4 linked regions of the Homo sapiens genome follow. The protein of the gene in region 4 purifies or fractionates together with the protein of the main gene of each other region. This does not show direct contact. Each region holds a gene or a part of one and is shown on either strand. Other genes may lie near its edges.

Region 1 (4,989 bases), on a different chromosome or scaffold from region 4:
GTAACCTGCCCCATTTACACTCTGAAACTCATGACCCTATTTTTATATCTGTTTTAATTAAGTTAGACTTGTTGATACTGTGGCAATGACTTAATCCCAAAATTGCAATGACTTAACACATAACAAAATCTTGTATCTTGGCCAGGAGTGGTGGCTCATGCCTCTCATCTCAGTACTGTGGGAGGCCAAGGCGGGTGAATTGCTTGAGCCCGGGAATTTAAGACCAGTCATGGGCAACATGGCGAGACCCTGTCTCTGCAAAATATTTTTTAAAAAATCAGCTGGATGTGGTGGCACACCTCTAGTCCCAGCTACTCTGGAGGCTGAGGTAGGAGGGTCGCTTGAGTCTGAGAGGTGGAGGTTGCAGTGAGCCGAGATCATGCCACTGCACTCCAGCCTGGGCAACAGAGCGAGACCCTATCTCAAAAAAAAAAAAATCTTGTGTTACAAATCCATTATGCGTTAGCAAACAGCTTTGTCCACTTTGACCCTCAAGGACCTAGGCTGATGGAAGCTTGCCCGTCTCGTGATGCATCTCAACATGTAGTTTCCCAGGGTCACATCTATAGGAAAGAGAGAGTTCAAAGGAAGATTGAAAGTGGCATAAGTCACTTTTTTCCCCAGCTCACTGGCCAAAATTAGTTGCATGACCCTAATGTAAGTGAATCCAAAATGTAGGAGGAGCACAAGGAATATTAATGAGCATTACTATTTCTTCAACACATGTTCTCTTTTTATTTTCTCCATGTTACCTATCAGGTTTTATTATATGATTTATATATTTTATATAACTTATACATATTTACATATCATATCATTTGCATGCTTTTGTGTTTACTGTTTAATGCCTCCTCCAGCAAGAATAGGAACTTATACTCCCAGAAAAGAATATAATTATTCTCCCAAGGAATATTTAGAATATAAAATTAGTAAAACTTGATTATTTGTTGAATACAACGGCTAAGGAAAGAATTAAGGATAATTCATGTTTCTCATTTGGATTACTTGGTTTTTGGTGTTTCCAAATGAAATAGGGAATATCAGAGGAGGAACAAGTGTGGGTGATATGATGATGAGTTTGGTTTGAGGTATAGTGGGTTTACTGCCATAGGGACCTCAAGGTGGAAATATGTGCAGAGTTGGATATATGGTTCTTAAACCCGGGGAAATGGGTAGGTCTTCAGCATGCCTAGTCTAGAAGTAGTTAAAAAAATAAGAAAGGGGGCCAGGTGCATTGGCTCACTGCACCTGTAATCTTAGCACTTTGCGAGGCCAAGGTGTGTGGATCGCTTGAACTCAGGAGTTTGAGATACCCATCTGTAGTCCTAGCTGCTCGGGAGGCTGAGGCAGGAGGATTGCTTGAGCCTGGGAGGTTGAGACTGCAGTGAGCCATGATTATGCTGCCGCACATCAGCCTTGGTGACAGAGTAAGACCCTGTCTCAAAAAAAAGGAAAAGGTAAGACTGTCAGTAACTACTAAGGACAGAATCCTTCTGTATACTAATGTTTAAAGAACAAAAAGAGGAAGATACGCTCTTGTGTGGGAAATGCAGCAAAAAATAAATGGTGAAAGGTGAACCAGGAGAGTATGAAGCTATGACTATCGAGGGTATTTAGAGTTTCAAGGAGAAAGTGAGGGACCATGTTAAATGTAGTAGATATGTAAAAAAAACAACAACAACCAAAAAAAAAAACAACTCTGCCTGTAGTTCCAGCTACTCAGGAGGCTAAGGCAGGAGGATCACTTGGGCCCAGGAGTTCAAGGTGTTAGTATGCTATTATCACACCTGGGAATAGCCTCAGTACTTCAGCCTGAGCAACATAGTGAGACCCTGTCTTTCTAAAAAAACAGAACAAAACAAACCACCAAAAACCAACAATTTCGTACTAAATATTTTCTACTCTTCTTACAAGCTTACTTAAGTCCCTTGCTCCTTTATTTCAACCCAACTTCCCTAACCACATTGGCTTCAATTTCATTGAGAAATTTGAAGTCATCAGGCATAAACAGCCCCAAATGTGCCCTCCCTTCTTCCCTTTACAAACTTACCACCATGCCCATCCATCCTTTCCTCTTTCCCTCCAATCTCAGGACATTCACAGCCAACTTTTCCACTAGTGCCATTGATACCAAGAATTGTCTGCACTTTCTGTTTATGCTTTTTCCCTTTTATGATTTGTGCTCCTAGTATTCCACGGAAATTTTTCTCAGTAAGGGGACCATTTGAAATTTTAGTCAATGGGGTGGAAGTGAAAAACTAAGTACAAAGTGTTGAATACTGAATGCAAGGTAGGGGAATAGCAATATAAATTGGAGATAGCAGTCACTGATGAAGTGAGAGGGAGATAATGCCAATCCTCCTCCCCAGACAACTGAAGACATTTACATGGACCAGATTCAGGTACTATTCCAGAGGCCCTTTCATTTTGGTGGCCATATTAAAAGTATGTCTCTTACCTGTCCTCCTCCTCCTATACCATGCCAGTGATTGAATCTTCATTGTAGAAGCAGAAGTGAGCCAGTTCCCACAATAAAGAATTTAGACACATGAGATTTCATTCATTTGTTCATTTGTGGAAAAGTATTTCTTGAATGTCTGCCATGTGCCATACTCAGGGTTAGGTGCTGGAAATACAATGGGGAGTAAAAACAAATTTCTTGTTTTAGTGGACTTTATAGAATAGTGATTTGATTTGTCTTTTATTTGTTTGTTTATATCTAACTTAAATTTGTTTAACTAATTTTACTTTTTTTCCCCTTTAGTACCCTCTTATATATGGACTGATTCTTATTCCCTGCTGGTGTTCTCTAGTTTGCCTAAGTAGAATTTACATGGGAATGCACTCTATTCTGGTAAGGAAAATGTTGTCTTCTTAATACTTTATTTTTTATGACATTGACAGGAAATTTTATAATTTTTAATCATTTGCAAACTTACCTGAAGCCTAAATGAGAAAATATTGTAAGTCGTCTAACTTTGTTTTGCGAAAATATCAACATGATGGTTTATGAAATATTAATGTAGTAGTCACATATTTCATAGAAACAGTTTCCAGCAATCACAATAGCCAGGTATTATAATCAAGATAACATTTCTTCCTCCTTCCAGTCTCCCTTTTATTTTCCTTTGCAGTCTTTTCTGTGTCTCTCTTATCACTGAGTCAAAACCAGCAATGTGGCTACAGAAACCAAGGAGAGCTCCTAAGTATTGTTGAAGAACTAGTGACTAGAAACTATGTGAACTTAAACTTTCCAGGGGCCATTTGTGTTTACATATTAAACTCTACTTTTCTTTTCTTTCCCATCAGTATGTTAGGACTCACAGTGGACATTGTGTTTTGAGAATGCAATTCGGTTCCCAAAGCAGCAGCACAGGGACCCTGTACTATTTGCAGCCACACCCATTCACTTTCCCTCCTCGCTATCCCTATTGACACCCCCTTAGCTCTGGCCTGCAACATATCTTGACCAGATTACTGTGATAGCATCTTAATTAGTAGCCAACTTCCAGTTTGACACTGCTCCACTAGCATTCAGCTGTTTCGTAGACTTTCCAAAACACAAATACGATGCTATACTGAATTATTAGGTTTCCTCCAATGCAAAGGGTTTCTTACCTCCATAACTTTACAAATGCTGTAACATTTACTTGGAATGCCCCTTTCACTTTCTTTACCTTAACTATCCCATTCATTCTTCAAGACTCACTATAGATATTCTTAACCCCTCAAAGCCTTATTACCTTCCCCATCTTCTCTTTCTCAAGACTTGTGAGGTGACCCTTCCCCACTTATCCTAAATTGCAATTGCTTTTTTCCTTATCTGTCAAGTATACTAGACTCCAAGTTCCTTGAGAACAGCAACTGTGTGTTTTAACTCTACCTTTAGTATCCAACATGGTGTCTCATGAGGCATCTATGAATGAATTATGTATTATCATGGAGATAAAGGATCACAAAAAAAGGTGGAAGAATTCATGGAATTCTAGTTTCTAATGGGTCATGTCAGTTTTTTTCTTGTCCTTAACATGTTACCATTTTTAGAATTTTTTTTCTCATATTATTTCATTCTCTTATTTCTTAGTTATAGAAATGTTGGTTTCTATCTCAAATTTCTTGCTTCCAGCACCTGCTCCTTCACAGATAAATTTCCAGAAGTCCCAAACACTATTTTATTTTGTTGGGAGGCAGTGTGTGCTGTAATTTTGGGGTTGGTCATTGTTTCTAGGTTTTTTTAAATTTTAATTTTAGATTCAAGGGGTACATAAGCAGATTTGTTTGCAAAGGTATATTGTGTGATGCCAAGATTTGGACGTCTATTGATCCTGTGACCCAGATGGTGAACATAGTACCCAACAGGAAGTTTTGCAGCCCTTTCCTCCCCCCGCTCTCCCTCTCTCCTTTTGAAGTCCCTACCAAACACTTTTTTTTCTTTTTGAGACAGAGTCTTGCTCTGTTGTCCAAGCTGGAGGGCAGTGGCACAATCTCGGCTCACTGCAGCTTCTGCCTCCCAGGTTCAAGCAATTCTTGTGCCTCAACCTCCTGAGTAGCTGGGATTACAGACATGTACCATCACACCCGGCTAATTTTTGTATTTTTAGTAGAGACAGGGTTTCACCATGTTGGCCAGGCTGGTCTCAGACTCCTGACCTCAGGTAATCCACCTGCCTTGGCCTCCCAAAGTGCTGGGATTACAGATGTGAGCCACTGCGCCCAGCCCTAAACACTATTTTAATAAACAAATTATTTGTGTTTGACTTTTTATAATTATTTGTATTTAATATGAATTGTGAATTTACATACACTTCTTTCTGACTAATCTCTCCTAATTTTGTAATCAGATTAAGTATCATATTTTTATGCAAAATCAAATACTTGTTACAAGAAAATGTTTTCTATCTTCTGTGTCTTTTTAGAGTTATTCTGTTCCACCCCTAAAAGTTAGCATCACTACTTCTGAAAAAACTACCAAATGGTTATGCATCTTTA
Region 2 (4,989 bases), on a different chromosome or scaffold from region 4:
AGTCACCGCACTTGGCCAGAAATGACACTTTAAAACTAACTATTACCTACAAAGATGCATGCTCACTGGTTGTTTTATTAAAAAATAACAATGCCTTAGGTTTATTGGCTCATTTTGTTTTATCAAAGAGCTTAAATGCAGTTGTGAATATTCCTGTTTACCCTTATGATAATTTAGAATGAGTATAATTATTGCCATTTTCACAAGTACAATTGGAACTAGGTAATTTATATTCCTGTTTACTCTTATGAGAATTTAGAATCAGTATAATTATTGCCATTTTCACAAGTACAATTGGAATGAAAAGATAAAACAGTGGAATACAGGTGTAGCTGAGAGTAGCAGAGGCAAGTCATCTATAGAATATTAAAATTTCTTGCATGCGTGCTGTCAGAAATCTACGAAACCAAAATTTTCTAAGACAAGCAAACTCACCAAGCTTTATAAGGCCCCTATCCCCCCAAATATTATCCTTTCCATGTACCCCAACATTAATGACAGCAACTGGTACTAGCCATGTGACATACAATCCCTGCACATTATTGGGCTCTGATGTTTCCTAGGTTTTTTTTTTTTTACAGCTTTATTGAAATTAAGCTTTATTCCCTCAAGACCTGGTTTTCATAAACTATATATTTTTGCAGGTGAGAGAAAATGGTCTCAGGTCAGTCAATCCACTGTTGACCCACCAAATGAAATGAGATAGTGGTAGGACTGTTAAGATGGAGAGGTGTCTGCATCATCCTATATTCTTTCCCAGCCCCCAGGTGACCATATAATTAAAATATCCTAGATATTTCTATGTAGTTGAAGTTGTTTTTAATTCTAGAACCCCTCAATCTTTCTCTATTCAATTCAAATAAAAAGACATTTGAGTATCCAGAACACACTCAGCACTAATAGAAGCAAAGCAAGAAAAGTGGAAACATTATAGTCGATGCCCATGTTCTACCTCAGGATCAAATGAGGCATTAAAATTGAAAGTTGTGATTCTGAATAAGTCTTAACATCATGCACATCTTAGCTGCTCAAAAATTTGTCATGTCAGCAAAGTGGTAACAGTGAAGATTTTCTACAATCAAAATAGTATAGTTCTGTTCTGTTCTATAAAATAGAAATAAATATACCACATTGATTAGAAAAATCACACTAGCATATTTCGGCAGCTTAATTTTTAAAAAGCTATGTTATATCAATGATTTAACCACATAGATCTGTCAGCTAGAAGAATGTTAAATATATAATTGACAATACTTTTGTTGCTTTCTTAGAGAGGTGTAGATAGACTTTGGGGTTATCAAGTGGTTCTGACATATTTTTAAGAAAGATTAGGCTGATGCTATGGTAACTTGGTTATTCATGATACATTATCTTGTAAGTAGGAGTAGTCAATAATCGTGATTTTGAAGCTATTTCAGAGCACTATAATCACCCCACTTGACAGACTTCAGAATTCACTGGAAATCTCTGGAGATAATTTTCAAGTTATTAGCATAGACTCTAAACAGACCTTCAAAATGCATTACATAGGTTTGCTAAAACAGACTGTAAGTGCCAAAAGTAGTCACTTTGATTTGATTTGCATTGAGTGGAATTTTTAAAATTTAAAGCTAAAGGCTTCAGGATTACTGCACTGGATTTTTATCGGACAACACTGAGTAGGGCTGCCACTGAAGCACCTTGGATGACAGCCTCTAACTCCCTGAACACAGCATGCAGCACACTACTGGGAGAATGACTGGGACTCAAATATGTGTTCAATGAGTGTACTTATGAGCTTGCTAGAGAGGAAGTAAAGTAATAATAATCTCTAATATAGTACTAAAGTTCTAATTTAGTACTACTACAATAAAGTAGTAATCAGTACTGATAAAGTAGCAGTAGTGCTAAAGTAATACTAATAAAGTAGTACTAATAGTCCTATGCTATCATTCGTAATAAAGTAGTATTGCTATTGATTCTATCGGTCTATCTACCTACCTGCCTGCCTACCTACCTACCTACCTACCTATCTGTTTGGATGGGAGGGCATAGGATAAGATTGGGCTTAGCAGTGAAGAGCAAAAAGCTCATGCATGCTTTGAGCAGGTACACACTCAAACTTGGTATCATGTGACTGTTCTGAATTCCAGAACCGAGGCTAAAAGGTGGAAGTTTTGTTTGATTGTGTCTCACATTTTCCTTTTGGTTTATTGTCTAACATATGTTACTAGAATTCTCTTTACTCTACCTTTTAGGTGGTTAGACGATGCTATTATTGACGAGATTACACCCAAGCTGATCAGAGATTGGCCCAATATTTATACCTACACCAAGGCCTTGGGAGAAATGGTGGTGCAGCAAGAGAGCAGGAACCTGAACATTGCCATCATAAGGCCCTCCATTGTGGGAGCAACTTGGCAGGAGCCTTTCCCAGTAAGCCCACTTACCTGGATTCTGTGTTTTGCTTCCAAACTAAGGTTCTTCTAGTCCAATTACTTTCTGATGTCTTTCTTCTTCTCCTCCTCAGGATTTATAGCTAAGTGCAGCCAATCGAATATGAACCCATTATACTAGGGCAAAATTCCACTTTGGGTTCAGGATTTACCCAGCATGTGGCTCCTCTGGCAGTTATCTTGACTGCCCTAGAGTTGGACGGAGAGCTTAAATTAGCTTCTAACTACTCTAGTCTCAAAATTCACATGGGTGATGGTTTCATATCTTGGCTTTCCTACTATAGTTTAAGCATACCAGAATGTCCTTGATGGCCAAATTGGTAGTATTACAACTGCCAGGGTAAACAAGAGTTTCAAAGCTCACAGAAGGATCTCAGTTTAGGAATACTAATTTTTTTTAAACCTCAGTATACTGTCATGACCTTTTGAAAGTACTTTGAATTATACCATCTTCTTGAAAGCAAGTCTGTGAAGCTTTGGGGTAGATAAATTCCAGCTCCACTACTTACTGGTAATGCAACATTTTTGAGTTGTCCCTTCCATAAAACAGGACAGATACTATGGAGAGTTGATTTGATGAGACAATGTATGAGGAGTGGTCCCTACTAAAAGGCTCAACAAATATTAATCCCTTCATCTTCTCCTCTCTTCTCTCTCCTCTCCTGTTATACTCACACATTTGACTTTTATACTGTAACGTAAAGAGACATAATAAGGTCAGCTGAATGGCTTAGGTCTTAAGAAACAAACTTAAAAACACATTTCCCTCTAGCTGCTCTTAAATATAATCTCTGTAACATCTTTAAGTAAGTCAATATACACACAGACACACAGACACACACACACACACACACACACACACACATATATATATATATGTATATATATCTGGCATGGACTCTATAGCTGGTAAAAAATGTTAAGAAATGGGCCATTAACACAAATCATGTTTTCAATGTTCTCCTAAGGAGGCTGAAATCAGGACTAAGGTGGAGAAGTATGGTTGGTGAATTGCTTAGCAGATCATGATATAAGGACAAGGTCCAATTTAGTCCATAAGAGGTCATAAAACACCACAAAACCATTCATGATTCCTGCTAAGAAAAACAATCCTGGCAAAATTCTAATTTTTGCACAGTCAAATAAAGTACAGAAAATGGCCAATGCTTTGCCATTATCTTTTGAGATCTTAATAATACTGAATTAGATAGTTCTATTGGCTGGGATCTCAGTGCTCTTGTTTGAAATTTATTAAGATTAGACTGCAGATGTTCCAAAGATAAAACAATTTTCTGAAATGTGTAACCAATAGAAATCTTCTTTCTTTTAGGGTTGGGTTGATAATATAAATGGACCTAATGGAATCATTATTGCGGTATGTATAATGATGAAGAAATAACTCCCTGAAATGTAGTAGAGAAATAGTAACAAAATTCTTAGTGCTGGCTTAGCTTCATTGATCCAAAAACATAAATGTTACTTTACTAATAACTGAGGCATATTATTTTAATTGTTCTGATTGTAATATACAGGCAGGATGAAATTATTCTTTGAGAATTTTTTATCAGAAAAACAGAGGTAATGTGCTATCAGTTACTATTTAGGAGTTTTATTTTTGAAGTCTTTGAGCATCAAGGACTTTTCTTTAGTTACCACAAGATGGGGGTATTTCCTCCTTTTTGCAGTTTATAATCTCATGAATTAGTGCAGTGAATTGAGGATGCAGTAAAAATATCTTCAAAGATTATTAAATTCTTGATTATAAAACACATGTAAGAGTTTATGTGCGTGTGTAGAAAAGAGATATACATCAATAATTTTTAATGAATACAAGAAAGAGAACTACCAATTGGAGCAAATTTTTCAAATACAAAAATCCATGAATATAGGCAACATCTTTTCAATAATATCTTACCAGGAGAAACGTGGCTCCTCTAGGTAAGCAGCCCTTAGTGCGCATCTGCCCGAAGTCCAGATTGATCCAGCCAAGCTGTGGGGCTTCACAGCTCACACTGAAGCATTTAGGGTCTAAACCCCACTTCATTCTTCTGTACAATGAATAGGAAATCAGTGATCTAAATGAGTTTAAATTTTATTAGGGATTTAGACTGCGATTCAGACTCTGACTCTGTTCCTCCCAGAACTAGGTTCAACATGAATTGCAATACAGATATGAGACAGTGAATTATAACAGTGACAAAGATCTTCCTTCCGATTTCTGATTTTTCTAGCAGCCCCTTTCTTTCTGCTTCCCACCTGCCTTCAACTCTTTCTTCTACAAAAGTTCAGTTGGGGTGAACGTTTAGTGACTTAGAACATCATTATTTTAACGTGATCCCAAAACGGCTTTCATTACATGCAAAGCTACATATTTATTTACATTTTCTAAAATGTTCTAAATTGGTTTCTTATGTCCAAAAGAAGGGGAGCTAGTTATAAGAAAACAGAACTGAGTAACATAAGAAAGTGCTAATCGTTGCAAATCAATGTTGGAAACATGCAAAGCACAAAGAATCAATTTCATAAACTCAACCAATTATTAACATGAATAATT
Region 3 (4,989 bases), on a different chromosome or scaffold from region 4:
GCTTGAACCTGGGAGGCGGAGGTTGCAGTGAACTGAGATTGCGCCACTGCACTCCAGCCTGGGTGATAGAGCAAGACTCTGTCTCAAAAAAAAAAAAAAAAAATTGGAAATAATGTTGGTGCTGTATAGCTTGAAGGATTTCTGGCACAAGTTAAATGTTCTAGCTTAGAGATGTGCAGCTTGGAGAGGTTATTGGAAAACCCAATCCCGTTCTTTCCTAAATTCTTACCTCTTATCTGGTAATTTTATTAACTACATGAGCATGGTCTCTATTTCTGTTGTCTTAGTTATTCATTAACTCTGCCCCATTTTCACATTGGTGGAAAGCAGAGTGCAGGGTAAATGATTGTGTATTCTTTTTTTATGTGAACAGGACTTGAAAGAGGAGATTGATATTCGACTCTCCAGGGTTCAGGATATCAAGTATGAGCCCCAGCTCCTTGCAGATGATGATGCTAGACTACTACAACTGGAAACCCAGGGAAATCAAAGTATGTGGCAAGCTCTTGGAATGCTTCAGTGAGGAGTCCCACAAGTCCAGAATTCCTTTTCTCTCAGAGTTGTCAAAAGCTGCTGGCAAAGCCTTAGTTATTCCTGTTATTGGATATATGTTAGATGCAGAGCCCATTTATTAGCTTGCTGGAGTTTGGGGAATTTTTTTTTTCTTTTTTGAGATGGAGTTTCACTCTTGTTGCCCAGGCTGGAGTGCAATGGTGCAGTCTCAGCTCACTGCAACCTCCACCCCCTTGTTCAAGCAATTCTTCTACCTCAGCCTCCTGAGTAGCTGGGATTACAGGCATGCGCCACCACGCCTGGCTAATTTTGTGTTTTTACTAGAGACGGGGTTTCTCCATGTTGGTCAGGCTGGTCTCAAACTCCTGACCTCAGGTGATCCACCCACCTCAGCCTCCCAAAGTGTTGGGATTACAGGCATGAGCCACCACGCCCAGCCTGGGGAATATTTTTAGGGTTATGCCTAACACCAGTCTTTTCCTCAACAGGTTGCTACAACTATCTGTATAGGATGAAAGCTCTGGATGCCATTCGTACCTCTGGTAAGGGCTACCTGACAGGGTCCATTCTAGGATCCTGAAAGCCCACCTAGGGAACAGAGTAATGAACCCACTTTGTATGTTAGGATTTGTCCTTTCTGCACATCCCTGGCTAGTAGGAAATTCTAGAGTTTTGAAAGTACTAGATTAGAGATTTTGCTGAAGGAAATGATATAAGCAGGTTATTCTCCAAAGAGTCTGGGTGTTTTGTTTTTTAAAGTTCTTCTCTTGAGACCTTTAGTTTCATGAAGTAGATGATAGTAATTTGCTTGTTTTTCCACAAAGGACAGGTGGCACCTGCTTTTTCACTAAGCCCAAGATAGATTGTTCTTGAATTTTTTCCATTCTGTCAACACTTGTCATATATGCTTTATCTCTATGAAAACAGTTTATATCTTAAACCTAGGATGGATGAGTAAGCAGGATGGTAAAATGTGTGATGACACTATCATGTGTCATAGATGTAGCTTACAACTGTGGTGTTACCACCAAATGACCACTCAGGCACAGCTTTATACCTTTGGTCTCAATCAGAATCTCCCTCTAACTCAACTTGCTCATTTCATTAGACCTATTTCTTTTTATTTTTGAGACGGAGTCTTGCTCTGTTGCCCAGGCTGGAGTGCAGTAGCACGATCTTGGCTCACCACAACCTCCACCTCCTGGGTTCAAGCGGTTCTCCTGCCTCAGCCTCCCGAGTAGCTGGGATTACAGGTACCTACCACCATGCCTGGTTAATTTTTGTATTTTTAGTAGGGACAGGTTTTCACCATGTTGGCCAGGCTGGTCTCAAACTCCTGACCTCAGGTGATCTGCCTGCCCCGGCCTCCCAAATTGCTGTAATTACAGGCGTGAGCCACTGCGCCCAGCTTCATTAGACCTACTTCTAAGTTTGGGGAATTAACTAGAAAGACTAAAGAATGGGGCAGGCGCAGTGGCTCATGCCTGTAATCCCAACGCTTTGGGAGGGCGAGGCAGACAGATCACAGGAGGCCAGGAGTTCAAGACCAACCTAGCCAACAAGGTGAAACCCTTTTGTATTTTTGTCTCTACTAAAAATACAAAAATAAGCCTGGCATGGTGGTGCACATCTGTAATCCCAGCTAATCAGGAGGCTGAGACTAGAGAATTGCTCAAACCTAGGAGGTGGAGGTTGCAGTGAGCCAAGATCACTGCCACTGCACTCCAGCCCGGGTGACAGAGCGAGACTCCATCTCAAAAAAAAAGACTAAAGAATGAGAAGAGATATCATTGTGCTGTTTTCTCCACAGAGATCCCATTTCATTCTGAAGGCCGGCATCCCCGTTCCTTAATGGGCAAGAATTTCCGCTCCTACCTGCTGGATCTGCGAAACACTAGTACGCCTTTCAAGGGTGTACGCAAAGCACTCATTGATACCCTTTTGGATGGCTATGAAACAGCCCGCTATGGGACAGGGGTAAGCCAGTTTTTTCTTCGGGGCACTAAAGAGATCCCTCAGACTGAGAGATCCTCACTCTTCCTTTCTCTTTCCTAAGGTCTTTGGCCAGAATGAGTACCTACGCTATCAGGAGGCCCTGAGTGAGCTGGCCACTGCGTGAGTTTGGAGGGGAACGTGTCAGAGGGAGCTGGTACAGTAGTGTTGGACTGTTGCCACAGTGCAGTGACCTTCATAAAGCATATAAACAAAATCCATGATACCATAAGAGTTGTCAGGTTCTAGACTATTAGATCAGTCTCTTACATTAGAAAGCAGATGCGGCCGGGCACAGTGGTTCACGCCTATAATCCCAGCACTTTGGGAGGCCGAGGCGGGAGGATCATCTGAGGTTGGGAATCCGAGACCAGCCTGACCAACATGGAGAAACCCCGTTCTCTACTAAAAATACAAAATTAGCCGGGCGTGGTGGCGCATGCCTGTAATCCTAGCTTCTGGGGAGGCTGAGGCAGGAGAATCTCTTGAACCCGGGAGGCGGAGGTTGCGGTGAGCCAAGATCGTGCCATTATACTCCAGCCTGGGCAACAAAAGTGAAACTCTGTCTCAAAAAAAAAAAAGAAGAAAAGAAAGCAGATGCAACTATACAAGCTAGTAAAAGAAGTTTTTACTAGCATTTTTCTTGTGTGCATTTTTCTTGTCTTTTGTTTAGCCCAATAAAATGTCAAAATTGGTGTAGCCTAGCAAAGGGAATAGTTTTTCAGCACACACAGGGATTCCTTCTCTTCAGAGTCTCAGCGTCCCTTTTGTGTCTTGGCCCAATAAAAGTAAGAATTAAATAACATTGGGCCGGGCGCGGTGGCTCACGCCTGTAATCCCAGCACTTTGGGAGGCCGAGGCAGGCGAATCATGAGGTCAAGAGATCAAGACCATCCTAGCCAACAAGGTGAAACCCTGTCTCTACTAAAAATACAAAAATTAGCTGGGCATGGTGGTGCGTGCCTGTAATCTCAGCTACTCGGGTGGCTGAGGCAGGAGAATCGCTTGACCCCAGGAGGCAGAGGTTGCAGTGAGCTGAGATCACGCCACTGCACTCCAGCCTGGTGACAGAGCAAGACTCCATCTCAAAAAAAAAAAAAAAAAAAAAAAAAAAAAAAGAATTAAATAACATCTATTTTTGGCCGGGCGCGGTGGCTCACGCCTATAATCCCAGCACTTTGGGAGGCCGAGGAGGGTGGATCACAAGGTCAGGAGTTCAAGACCAGCCTGGCCAACATGGTGAAACCTCGTCTTTACTGAAAATACAAAAATTAGCTGGGCATGCTGGCGGGCTCCTGTAATACCAGCTACTCGGGAGGCTGAGGCAGAAATCACTTGAACCCGGGAGGTGGAGGTTGCAATGAGCCGATATCATGCCATTGCACTTCAGCTGGGGTGACAAGAGCATGACTGTCTCAAAAAAAAAATAAAAATTAAAAATTAAAAAAATCTATTTTTACTACCACTTAAAGTATTAGTAACCATGTCTGAAACAAAGGCCATCGCTATAGAGTCAGCTGTTGAGCATTTGTGTCACAGGAGAGGATTCATGGCTTTTGTTTGGGAATGTTTTTAATACACACTAAACATAGTCTCGTATTTTCATGCAAATGTTAAAATCAAAGTTCTTGGCGAGAAAGGAAAGCCAATCTAGAGTAAAAACTTAGGCCGGGCGCAGTGGCTCACACCTGTAATCCCAACACTGGGAGGCCGAGGCAGGTGGATCATCTAAGGTCAGGAGTTCAAGACCAGCTTAACCAACATGGTGAAACCCCATCTCTACAAAAATACAAAAATTAGCCGGGCATGATGATGTGCGCACCTGTAATGCCAGCCACTCAGGAAGGTGAGGCAGGAGAATCGCTTGAACCTGGGAGGTGGAGGTTGCAGTGAGCCAAGATCGTGCCATTCCACTCCAGCCTAGGCGACAGAGCGAGACTCCATCTCAAAATAATAATAAACAGTTAGTTACCAGCCATAAAAATAATCTGTTTTCTGCTATGTTGAATATTGCTCTTTTTCAAGAGCTTAAGGGGTATGTCTCTCCTGTCTTCTCTCTGTCCCTAAAAATGAGCTACGTTGTCTTAAAAGATGAAAGGGCCAAGGCCTGGAGCAGTGGCTCACGTCTATAATCCCAGCACTTTGGGAGGCCAAGGTGGGCGGATCACTTGAGGCCAGGAGTTGGAGACCAGCCTGGCCAACATGACAAAACCTCATCTCTACTAAAAATATAAAAATTAGCCTGGTGTGGTGGCACATGCCTGTAATCCCAGCTATTCCAGAGGCTGAGGCAGGAGAATTGCTTGAACCCAGGAAGCAGAGGTTGCAGTGAGCCGAGATTGTGCCACTCCAGCGTGGGTGACAGAGCAAGAGTCTGTCTCGAAAAGATGAAAGGTCCTAGTAAAAACTGCTTAGAAGGCCAGCTGCAGTGGTTCGTACTTGTAATCCCAACACTTTGGGAGGCTGAGATGGGTGGATTACTTG
Region 4 (4,989 bases):
CCCATCTCCATCCCTGCCCTCCCACCCATCACCCCATACCTTTGTCCTGAGGCTCACACTGCCCCTGTTTTTTCTTTTTTTTCAAAATGCTGTTTTAATCTATTCCTTGAGCCATAGATGAAACTAGGTGGCTTGGAGCCTGTGGATCTCAGATTGTTTGTCGCTGTTCGCTGTTCTAGATGTTCTCCAATTTCCCTGCAAGCTGTAAAACTCATTAATCCCATAATGATGATTTAGGGCTGATTAAAACATAAACAGTATTACTATTAATGCTTGCTATGCCATATTTGTATTCTCAGTTTTCTATATACTTTTCATTGAGTAGATTTTGTTCTTTTAAAGAAGATATGTGTCTTAAGCTTTTAAAGACACTTTTAAGCTTAATGTACAGGAAAACATCATTTGGTTCCTTGCTCTGATTAATTTCTACTCTCTTTTCCCTCTGACCCACAGTTTGGGGATATGGATTCCTGTCAGTGACGATTATTAATCTGGCATCTCTCCTCGGATTGATTTTGACTCCACTGATAAAGAAATCTTATTTCCCAAAGATTTTGACCTTTTTTGTGGGGCTGGCTATTGGGACTCTTTTTTCAAATGCAATTTTCCAACTTATTCCAGAGGTAAGGATGTTGGCTATTTGTTTCTGTGAATAATTGTTTCTTTTGAACGTTTTAGCACTTTGTATGTTTTTAGCCTCCATAATTCTTACAGCGTTTTATGGTCTAGTTTATAGTGTCTTGGATAAGAGAAAGCTGAATCACAGCAATTGTAAAGGCTTGTCCCAAGCTGCAGTGGATATCACTATCAGAGACAAAATTAATATTCTAGGAGGCCAGCCACTAGGACGTGCTCAGACAGCTCTGGGACACCTCAGAAGGCCTTAAAACTTTATTCTGCCTTGCACTTGGCAAATTTAATTTTTCCACACACTGTTTCATTATTTATTTATTTATTTATTTTTCTAAAGAGCATGCAATGTCAACTGTACTGCAAATGTCAAATGTAAATTTATAATGTATTTAACATATACCACTAAATTCCCTCATATATTTACTACAGTTATAAGTGACTAGAGAGTAAATGAGAGCATGGTTGACAAACCTTTTCATTTTTTCCAACTGTGGAAAAAATATCAATTGAGGACTAATAAATAAATAGCAACTTATTTTTTTTCTTTGATAAAATGTGTTATTGATCTATCTTGACTATAGTGCACACTATTCAATTTATTTCAAATCTGTGTTGTGCCCATATAAGGAAGAGAAATGGAGGAAGGGAAATAAATGAAAGGAAAAGAGAGGCAATGTTGAAGAGGAAGGAAAGGAGAAAGAGACTTTCATAGAAGGGATCCACAAAGGGGAACTAGAGAAATATATGTATACATGGACTGTATCTGCCACCCACAATGCACACACACAGGGAGAGACAAACCCCATACAGAGAGAAAATATTAATAGTATTTCAGGGAGTACCACCCTTATCTCGTAATTTTTAGAAAATTATAACTAAAGCTTCCTTTAATTTTTCAAGCTATACATTGAAAGTGGGTATATAACTTTTTAGAGTTATAGATTTATTATCATTATTTGATCTAGGACCTAAGATAATATCTATTTCACAGCCTCAATTGTAGAGATAAAAAATATTAAAATTTAGGGTGGTTAAATAATTTGATTATAGCCTTACAATCAGCTAGTAACAAAGCTAGGATGACAATACAGATTTTCTGATTTAAAAGAGTATTATATACATAATACATTTAATATGATATAATATATGTATTTATTATCTCATCTGCTTTATGGGTCAAAGTAAATTAAACAAACTAATACTGTATGTGGACTAAAGACTCTACATTGATGATGTTAAGGTTTTCTATTTTCTTGAAGTTTAACAATATAAAGAATCTGTCTTTGTAATAATCTCTCAAATTTTCATAGAGTTTTTTGTAGCAAAATGATTTTCCTTTTCTTATTTCACTTTATTTTCATAACCTCAATGTTAGGTAAATGGAACATTTATATTTATATAGCCATTTTGCATTGTATAAACAGGCACAAAGAAGTTATTCAAATGAGGATGCGGCCATGATGTCTCCCCAGAGGCAAACATAGGACAAGAACCCAGACATCTTCTATTCTGCTTCAGAGGGGAGATTTACAATGTGTGGAATGGTGTAAAGTTGTGGCTTTTCACCCATTAGTCTCTCCTCTGATTCTATTTATTTGAAGTTTATGTGTCTTGTCTGTTAGGAACATCTTGACTCTTTATAACTTCAAACTCTAACTCCAGTTCTTTGTCCTTTAAAGAAAGAATTATTCCATTCTTATTGCTGTGTGTGTGTGAAAGAGAGAGAGAGAGTGGTGGCAATTTTAAATCTTCTTTTTGCTTTTATTCTTGGGCCTAGGCCTTGATTTATTTACCTTTTTAGGATTTATCACAGTTCTGTAGGTATAAGAGGATTTCTCTTGGGAAAACAGTAATCCAAGTGGCCTGCCATATTTGTTTTAAAAGTTTGATTCTGGATATCATGGACTAATATATTACTTTTAGAGACAGTAGGTAATCAATATCTCATTTATCTTCATTATCTAGACCTAATATCGTATTCTAAAGATGAGAATCAGAGCTGCTGCTTTACTGCTAAAAGTTTACTCTTTCAAGGCAAATATTGCTGTAGGTGTTATAGGTGGGAAACTGTAAGATTCTCTGGTGGCTTTATTTAATGAGACTTCTAGTTGTAAGGTTTTTGTGCCATCTCATACAGTTTTGTCATTCAAATTTCAAAGTTTTTGTTTTGTGATTTTTGGCAGCTAAGTTTCCAATATTACTTGGATGTGAAGAGAGACTTAGAACATTGGTGAGAATTGCATACTGGTATTATTTTCCAGAAATCAAGTTAAATTTCTTGGTTTTACTTGAATTGCCCTTTTTTCTCCCTTAGGCATTTGGATTTGATCCCAAAGTCGACAGTTATGTTGAGAAGGCAGTTGCTGTGTTTGGTGGATTTTACCTACTTTTCTTTTTTGAAAGAATGCTAAAGATGTTATTAAAGACATATGGTCAGGTAAATGGACTTTATTTAAAACATCCAATATTTTACCCCCTAAAGCTACTTTATATAGGCAAATAAAGACAGAAATTTTATTTTTAGAATTATGAGAATGGTCCAGTTATTAGGCTTGTGAGTTTAAGGAGAACAAAGAGTCAATATATTGACAAGTATAAGATAAATACTTGATTCATGTTGTAAAATTTGGAGGTTATTTTTGTTTTTTTTCAAGTATCAGCAATTTAATATTGAATAACAGATGTGCATAATTCATATTCTATTCATATTCATCAAAATAAGAGTGTATACGTGTTCTAACACGAACAAACAGTAACAGCAGAATCTAATAAATGAAAATACATGTAAAAAAGAGAAATTTTATATATCTAAAAATACTTCTTTACACATAGAATAGACATACAATTTTCCTCTTATAAATAAAAAGCAGTAAACTCTATTTCCTTGTCTGTATGAATCATCTTTTTTCTTCTTATAATCTCTTTGGTTTTTGTTCCCATATAGAATGGTCATACCCACTTTGGAAATGATAACTTTGGTCCTCAAGAAAAAACTCATCAACCTAAAGCATTACCTGCCATCAATGGTGTGACATGCTATGCAAATCCTGCTGTCACAGAAGCTAATGGACATATCCATTTTGATAATGTCAGTGTGGTATCTCTACAGGTATATGTTAATTCCATTTTTCCTTCATTATACTGCATTCTTTATACTGTGTAAACATGACTGTTTATGCAGCTAAGTCAGTTTTTGTACATTTATGTATGTCAGACTTATTCCTATATATGTGGGGTAACTGGAATGTAAGTCTGCATTGTTTTTCCACCTTCCCTGTATATGTTTACTCTAAACAAGTGAGTTAAGAAAGAAATTGTGGATCACTGTTCTGGACTTCATTATTCTCTAAGATTATTTACTATATGAGAGTCTCTCAATTGCATTTATACAATATTATATAGCAAAATTTATTCAGAGCATTTATTTTACAATTCTTTGAAGATCCAGAATCAAATAATCCTTTGATTGATTTTGAAATTGCAAGAAGATTTGCAAATTATTAAAATTGTTTTTATTAATTGTCTGACTTATAATTTATATTTATATCCACATCTTCTAAATAATATTAATAGGCACAATTTCTTGAGCACGTATCATATACCAGGTAATATGCTTAGCACTTAATTATTTGATCTCATTTACTTTTTATAACAACTACTCAGTGTAGGGATTATTTCTTATGTATTAGAACTATATTGGTTTCAAGTGATAGAAATCAAACAAAATTATATATGCACAAAGGACAACTTACTGGAAAGATACTAGATGACTAATAGAACAGCCAAGCTACAGGAAAAACAAGAACCTAGGAAACATTAGAACCCCTAGGACTCTCCCTCCTTCTCTTTCCTGTCTCTTAGTATCATTCTTTTCTTTCACTGTAGGCTATCTTTTCCATAAGTGGGATACATAGCCACTAGCAGTTCCTGAGGTTTGTCTTATAATTTCAGCTACTAGAAGGAAATTGACCTGACTCTTTCAGTCCTAAATCCAAAATCTCTGGCAAGTGTCTTCCTGGTTCAGCTTGAATTAGATGATCACTTCTAGACTAATCTAAGTGCTTAGAGGGCTGGGCCCCTTTAATGGTATCAAGGGAATGTGGATGGAGTAGAGGAGTGGTTATCAAAAAGGGATGCTGAAAAGATAGTATCACTGGTGTCTACAACAATTCTCATTTGACAGATGAAGAAAGTGGAACTTTAGATGTTAAATAACCCCTCCAGGTTTACTCAGCTAGTGAATGGCAGATCCACAAGCTATATAGTTAAACATGATATAAAAGTGAACAGCTAAAAACAAAATAAAAAGGAAAGCCAGTTAAGGGGAAAAAAAGCAAAAAAAATAGAGCAATCTGG

The links. Proteins that work in one complex are often made in the same cells at the same time.
Region 1: the proteins of SLC39A8 (region 4) and SGPP1 purify together in Homo sapiens (affinity purification with mass spectrometry; 2 studies listed by BioGRID and IntAct, with this or other methods). This does not show direct contact.
Region 2: the proteins of SLC39A8 (region 4) and FAR2 purify together in Homo sapiens (affinity purification with mass spectrometry; one large-scale study listed by BioGRID and IntAct). This does not show direct contact.
Region 3: the proteins of SLC39A8 (region 4) and LTAP1 purify together in Homo sapiens (affinity purification with mass spectrometry; 3 studies listed by BioGRID and IntAct, with this or other methods). This does not show direct contact.

The regions. Positions count from the first base shown.
Region 1 is NC_000014.9:63,696,434-63,701,422, reverse strand, and holds part of SGPP1 (sphingosine-1-phosphate phosphatase 1), read left to right. Parts: intron 1-711; exon of another isoform or gene 712-2,626; intron 2,627-2,764; coding exon 2,765-2,854; intron 2,855-4,989.
Region 2 is NC_000012.12:29,305,421-29,310,409, forward strand, and holds part of FAR2 (fatty acyl-CoA reductase 2), read left to right. Parts: intron 1-2,237; coding exon 2,238-2,415; intron 2,416-2,429; exon of another isoform or gene 2,430-2,624; intron 2,625-3,765; coding exon 3,766-3,810; intron 3,811-4,350; exon of another isoform or gene 4,351-4,483; intron 4,484-4,989. UniProt on the Homo sapiens protein: Catalyzes the reduction of saturated but not unsaturated C16 or C18 fatty acyl-CoA to fatty alcohols (FAls). A lower activity can be observed with shorter fatty acyl-CoA substrates.
Region 3 is NC_000001.11:154,209,959-154,214,947, reverse strand, and holds part of LTAP1 (protein C1orf43), read left to right. Parts: intron 1-373; coding exon 374-491; intron 492-1,001; coding exon 1,002-1,055; intron 1,056-2,323; coding exon 2,324-2,490; intron 2,491-2,569; coding exon 2,570-2,628; coding exon of another isoform or gene 2,629-2,632; exon of another isoform or gene 2,633-3,487; intron 3,488-4,989. UniProt on the Homo sapiens protein: General regulator of phagocytosis. Required to uptake Gram negative bacterium by macrophages.
Region 4 is NC_000004.12:102,303,070-102,308,058, reverse strand, and holds part of SLC39A8 (metal cation symporter ZIP8 isoform a precursor), read left to right. Parts: intron 1-453; coding exon 454-623; intron 624-2,057; exon of another isoform or gene 2,058-2,863; intron 2,864-2,947; coding exon 2,948-3,070; intron 3,071-3,577; coding exon 3,578-3,742; intron 3,743-4,989. UniProt on the Homo sapiens protein: Electroneutral divalent metal cation:bicarbonate symporter of the plasma membrane mediating the cellular uptake of zinc and manganese, two divalent metal cations important for development, tissue homeostasis and immunity.